Linked DNA regions of Homo sapiens: region 2 is linked to region 1. The links come from fine-mapping of genetic effects on gene expression. A gene starts in region 1. The other region holds a variant in brackets. All regions are shown on one strand. Distances are between the middles of the regions.

Evidence for each region. PIP is the estimated chance that this variant, and not a neighbour inherited with it, causes the effect.
Region 2: its variant is the best candidate, but not a certain one, in a credible set for the expression of TOM1L1 in lung (TOPMed, PIP 0.66).

Annotation. Positions count from the first base shown.
Region 1 is chr17:54,899,412-54,902,328 of GRCh38, reverse strand. It overlaps TOM1L1 (target of myb1 like 1 membrane trafficking protein), which reads right to left and starts at 1,477. Exons shown (of 16, transcript NM_005486.3): 1 at 1,406-1,477. The coding sequence starts at 1,463. It overlaps LOC124904033 (a long non-coding RNA gene), which reads left to right and starts at 1,592. Exons shown (of 2, transcript XR_007065854.1): 1 at 1,592-2,917. RefSeq lists enhancers at 1,163-1,252, 1,273-1,382 and a silencer at 1,463-1,802.
Region 2 is chr17:55,189,570-55,192,486 of GRCh38, reverse strand. It overlaps a transcript of STXBP4 not described here. Among named protein-coding and RNA genes, the nearest start is that of HLF, 74 kb to the left of the region's middle. The variant G/A (reference allele first, on the strand shown) is at 1,633.

The DNA.
Region 1 (2,917 bases):
CTCCCCGTCTCAAAACAAAAACAAAAACAAAAACAAAACAACAACAACAAAAAACTTGAATCTGGCACCGAATGGACAAAGCTTACCTCCCTAGAAAAGAAAACTCCTATTCACCCTTCAAAAGCCACGCAGAATTCATTTCTCCCTTCTCCTAAGTTTTGTGTGTTTTGCATTTTCTTGCATTGCAAAGGTGCCACACAAAACTGTGCCCGTCTTCTCTACAAGAAAGTGAGTTCCCTCAGGTTTGAGACCACGTCTCACCTTGGCCTCACCAGTGCCTGATCCAGGTCCAGGCACATAGCTGACAGTTAGTCCATGTTTACAGAATTAAAAAATTAAGCAGAAGAACTGCTGAAGTTTCGTTTGCCTATGAAGACACAGTCTGAATCCATTTCTGCTTGGGGTTCATTCTAATATCCAAAAAAGCACAGCCATTAAGGGAAAGCATCTCCTCAATGGTAGCTACTCTGACCATCTTATAAGGATGTGTAAACTAAGGTTCTGTTTAAGTGGTGTGTTCGGTGTCACAGCAGTTAGTAGAGCTGTGATCTAAATTTTCCAAATCTGGGCCTCTTTACTACAACTACTAGGTTCTCACGATTTCATCACCCCACTAAGTTCCTGACATCATCACACTTTGCCTGGCATTAATATGCACTCGTGCCACACCCAATTCCCAAGGGAGGAATCAGGGAAAAGAAGGAGCAGTGAGCTGGTGCTGGTAGGAGTCCAATCACTGGCTTCTACATACATCATGCAAGGTACATCCGGAGGAGAGAGAAATCATTTAGGTGGATGCTGGTGTAGTCCCTAGTGGCCTGCGAGAGACCTCCGTGGCCCCAGATGGCTCCTATGTTCCCCTCCTCTTCACTCCAATGCCAAGCATTTTCATTCTCTTTGTTTACCCAGAAAAGTAATCCAGGTTGTATAAGCTTGGCACTAGAGAAAACTGGTTTGGGGAGACCTGCCCCTCACAGTAAGGCCACATCACTTAGTCTCCCAGAGCCTCCTCTTCTGATCTGTAAAACGGGCATAACAATACCGTGCCCTGGAGAATGTGCCTTTAGGAATAACTTCCCCTACCGAGAAGTTTCTGGTGTCTCCTCGTGGAGGCCCAAACACTCCATGCCTGACTCCCGCGGTTCACCTGTTTGGTTCCACTCCCCAGGCGGCATCGAAAGGAAGGTACATTTTTGAGGACTGAGGTTCTACAGTGAGTTGGCCAAGAAGGAAACGACGAAAGGGGGCCGGGTGGAATGCGGGTGCCTTGGGAAAGTTGCGGGGGGAGGGGAATAATTTTTTCAAGTTGGACTAACTCCGTCCTCTGCAGGCCGAGAATGGATCAAGCAGGAAAGGATCCCACGGTCCCCTGCCTGCCTGGGCGTCTCTCCCCGCGCCTCCTTACCTATGAGGTGGCCCACGGAGGTCGCGTAGGGATCCCGGTGACTCTTGCCAAACGCCATGGTAGCGCCAGAGGGCCGGGCCCAGGAAATCCGCCTCCACCGCTCTCCGGCTCCCGACTCCACCCGCTCGGTACCCTTGGCTCCTCCTCTTCGCCCGAGCGCTTCCCGGGCTCTGGCAGAGGCGGTGCGTTCTGCGCTGCCGCTGCGGGGCGCGGGCACCGAGCGTGAGGAGCTGGGCGCGGGGCAGGGACGCGAGGGCGGGGCTTCGGGACGCCCAGCGCACCTGCAGCGCGCCCTGCGGGACCCGCGAGGAGGCTGCGCTGCCGGCTGCAGGTGGTACAGGCGGGTAGTGGCGGGTGTATGGAGCCTGCGAGAGTGGCGCGGCCGCCCGCTCGGATCCCAGGTGGGCTTTTCGCCCCGTGCAGGAGGAGCAGGCAGCCCAGAATCTCCAGCCTGGGAATTAGAGACCCAGGCTTTGATCCTGCCGCTTGCTGGGCACCTTGTCATTCTTCTCTGCGCCTCTTTGGCTGCCCTGGGTAGACCAAAGATAATAGGGGGTTAATAACACAAACCTCAGAATTATGAGAATTAAGGGAAGGACGTAACCGATTATGTCGGTGTCTGGTACCCACAAAATAAATAGTTAGCCACTGAATATACTGAATAACTAGAAATATTTACCCTCGACCTGCCTTTGTCCTAGAGATCCGGGAGGGGAGGTGTGCGCCCTGCCCTTTAAAGTTGTGGTCATGTCTAGGAGGAAGGATTGGCTTCGAATTTAGGGCTTCCCAGGAGCAGGCCCTCTTTGTCTCTCTACTATTTCCTCGAGGGACCACAGGGCGCCGCCTCGCAAGCTCTTGTTTTCTAACCCCACCTTCTGGGAGCCGTGTTTTCCAGCCTGATTCTAAAAACGGGAGAGGGGCTTTCCGTTTCTTCTGGCAAGGAGTATGCTTGGCTTTAGGCCTGCTTTGTAATGTAGGTTGGAATCTGAGAAGCCCAACACCTTTCCAGCTGCCCCTTCAGAACCAGAATTTATTTCCTATTCCTTTGCATTCAATTAACATCTGATTGGCGATGTTAACAATCTCCAGCCAGCAGGAGCCTGCCAGAGAGTGAGGTGTCCCCAGGCGATGTCAGATAGCCATAGATGAGCTCCTGGTGCTTGTAGATCCTGTTTCCTGTAGTCTAACTGCCACCCATTTCAAGTCTGTTTTTTAGCCCTGGAGATGGTGACTAGGGAGACGAAGGGGACCTGTTTTGACTTATGTCCGTGGTCTTGTGAATTTTAATATAGAGGTCAAAACCAATTGCCATGCACTCCAGGAGGCTAACATTTAATTATCTGTAACTCAATTATTTATAATTTTTCTTGACCAAAGTGAGCCAAAACCTGGGATTCTAAAATCTAGAATGAAATATTCTTGTTGTGATGATATGTCTCATAATGGGATTTGTCCCACGTGTAACTAATATTCTCCACCTGCCTATTCAGGGCGAGTAGCTATTTCAGATGT
Region 2 (2,917 bases), 290 kb before region 1:
AGGGTGAAGTAACTAACTTGATAGGTTAATTTAGGAAGAACAACTTTCAAATTGAGCACATTCAATTGTCCCTCCCTTTCTTCCTCTTGACACCACGTTGCTCACATGAAGTAAGTCCACTTCTGTCATGCCATACATTTTACAGTGGATTGCCTTTCCATTGAGAGGTCTGCTGTGGTTCCAGGATACCTGTGAGTTTATTTACTTCTGGGATGTAGTATTGGAAAAGCCATTCATCTGAAAATATACACTCTATCCTCCAACCTATAGTTTATCAATAATAGAGATGATACATTTAGTCCCTTTGTCTTTTTATCAATTCACTCAGAACTCAGACAGACAGAATTTTTTATTGGATTCAATAGCACGTATTTCTTTTGGTTTTGGTTATGATTAAATTACATAATTCACAAACTTATATAGCACAATCCCTAGCCCTATTTGTCACTTCCATTTAGCTGTTCTTGAGTTATATCCTTTATAATAAACTGCTAATAGTAAGTAAAGCACTTTCCTGAGTTGGGTGAACTGTTCTAGCAAATTATCAAGCATAAGAAAGATGTTGTGGAAACGTACAATTTGTAACCAATCAGTCAGAAATACAGGGGGCCTGGGATTTTTGACTGGTGCCTGAAATTGGGGGAAGCCTTGTTTGACTGAGCTCTTAAGCTGTGGGATCTGCACTATCTCTGAGCAGTGTGAGAATTGAATTGAATTGCTGGATATCTTGAGTTAGTGCCTGGAGAATCAGAGAATTGATTGTTGGTATCGGAGAACACCTCAACTTGACACTGTACATTCAAGGACATAGTTTGGTGGTCAAGTATGAGAAAGAGTAATAGAAAAAGAGTCAGAGACTGAGGTAGATGCAGAAAGAGACTAAGAGAGATGGGGATGAGAACAGAGACAGATGAACTATAACAGAAGACGTCTATGTCCCCTGAAGTGTCAGGGAAATAAGTATTGCTTAGGTTGAAGTTGTTGAGGGACCACTATTTGGTATTTTGAAAAAATAAGAAGGATCCTCCATTGTCATAACCATTTGAAGAAATTTCATCTGGGAAACACAGACTATGATTATCTTTCATCAGGAAGAATGCGTTTTCTCCAGCTGGTGTCACAGAGCTGGAAATGCAGAATCTCAGGTCCCACCCCGGACTTATGAATCAGATTCTGCATATTGGCTCCCAGGTGGCACATATGCACATTGTAGTTTGAGAAGCCCTGTCCTGGGGTATTAGATCAGTAAAGCGAAAATCAGACTTGGGTTCTAATAGTCCCTTCAGCACTCTCCAGCCACATGACTCTAGAAAGAACCTATCTACCCTGAGTTTCAGCTTCCTCATCTGTATAATGGGAATAAAAGATCTGCACTCCTTGTTTTAGGATTTGTTGGGAAGAACCAATAAAATTGGAATATGAAGATACTTTGAAGACTGGAAAGGGCTCTGAAAATGGAAGCTCTCCAGTTGCTCAGTAAATGAGGCTAGGGTGGGGATTGGCCTTTCCCCTGACTATCACTTGTGAGTTTCACTTTACTGCTACGGTCATTCTCTCTGGCTCTGAGTAAACCCCACCATGTGTGAAGGAAATGTGAGCAAGTCAGCAGATGAAGTGTGTATTTTTGAACAC[G/A]TTAATTTCTTTATCAGCTCTATTTTTTTTCTGAGGGCATCACTGTATTACATTAATGCCTTGAGTTGTTAACAATACCAGCTGGCACTGCAGGTCTCACTTATATACACAGTGTAAAAGCTCAGGGAGTAGCGTGGAAATTGCCACCCAAACCACAATGCTGGATCTCCTCCTTGGCATGCTTATTATCTCCCTCGGGAGCAGATCCACCATTCCTTCCTTTGTTTTCAAAACCCTTTATTTATGATATTATTTGGCATCTATGCAATTACTTTTGTTCTTCTGTGGGGTTTGAGGCCTTGGGAGATCACAGACTTTATAGTTTCTCTTTTATCTCTGTCTCTTCAGGGCTTGGCATGTAGCAGGAATGTCAGACATATCTGTGGCATATGAATAGTGGTGGTGGGGAATGTGAAATTGACCATTGTATCCCTACTTATTCATTCATTATTAGCATCAACGAATCTTTCTCAGATAAGGCCATCCTTGACAGTATACATGAGGTCTTGTGCACCCCTATGCTTCCCTGGAACCCTTTCAAAATGCTCATCACACATGCAGACATTTAATGAATATCTTTCCTGAGAGCTTGTGAGCTCTCTGAGGGCAGGGATTGTTCTGTTCCTTGCTGTATCCTTGGGTTCAGGACAATACCTGTCACATTATGGTGTTCAATAAGTATTTGTAGAATTAAAGTGATTCACTAGAGATTCCAATTCTTGAGGATTCCTACCTTCAGTATTCCTTTCTAAAACCAAATTATCCCAACAGTAAAATTTCCCCACTTGGAAATCTAGCCAATTTTTTCCCCGTTTAGAAAGTTTCCCTATCAATTCTTTTCTCCAGTGGCCTACTGCCTAGAGGAAAGGAAAGTAACACTTACTGAACTGCCTACTTTCAACAATATATAATAAGTGTTATTTTCTCTACTCTTCTAGAGAGGAGAATGATGTTCAGAAGGTAAGTGGCATGACTAAGAGGTACTGTGGGGCAAGGCTAGGATTCTAACCCAGGTTTAATCCAATTTACAGTCACTCTTCCCACTGAATCACACCACCTGGGTAGCACATAGATGACTCTTATACTTTCTCATATTTTTCGTCTAGCATCTGTTTTTCAGAGCGTAATCTTGTTTGAATAGGGCCACAGAACTGGCCAATGTCAGAGAGGACTGATATTCCAAATTTAATTACTTGTATAGGTTTATTTTCAACAAGAATTACTTCATAACTCAGCCTTCACTCTTTCAGACTAAACTGTCTCCTTCCATCTGGGGCACGTAACT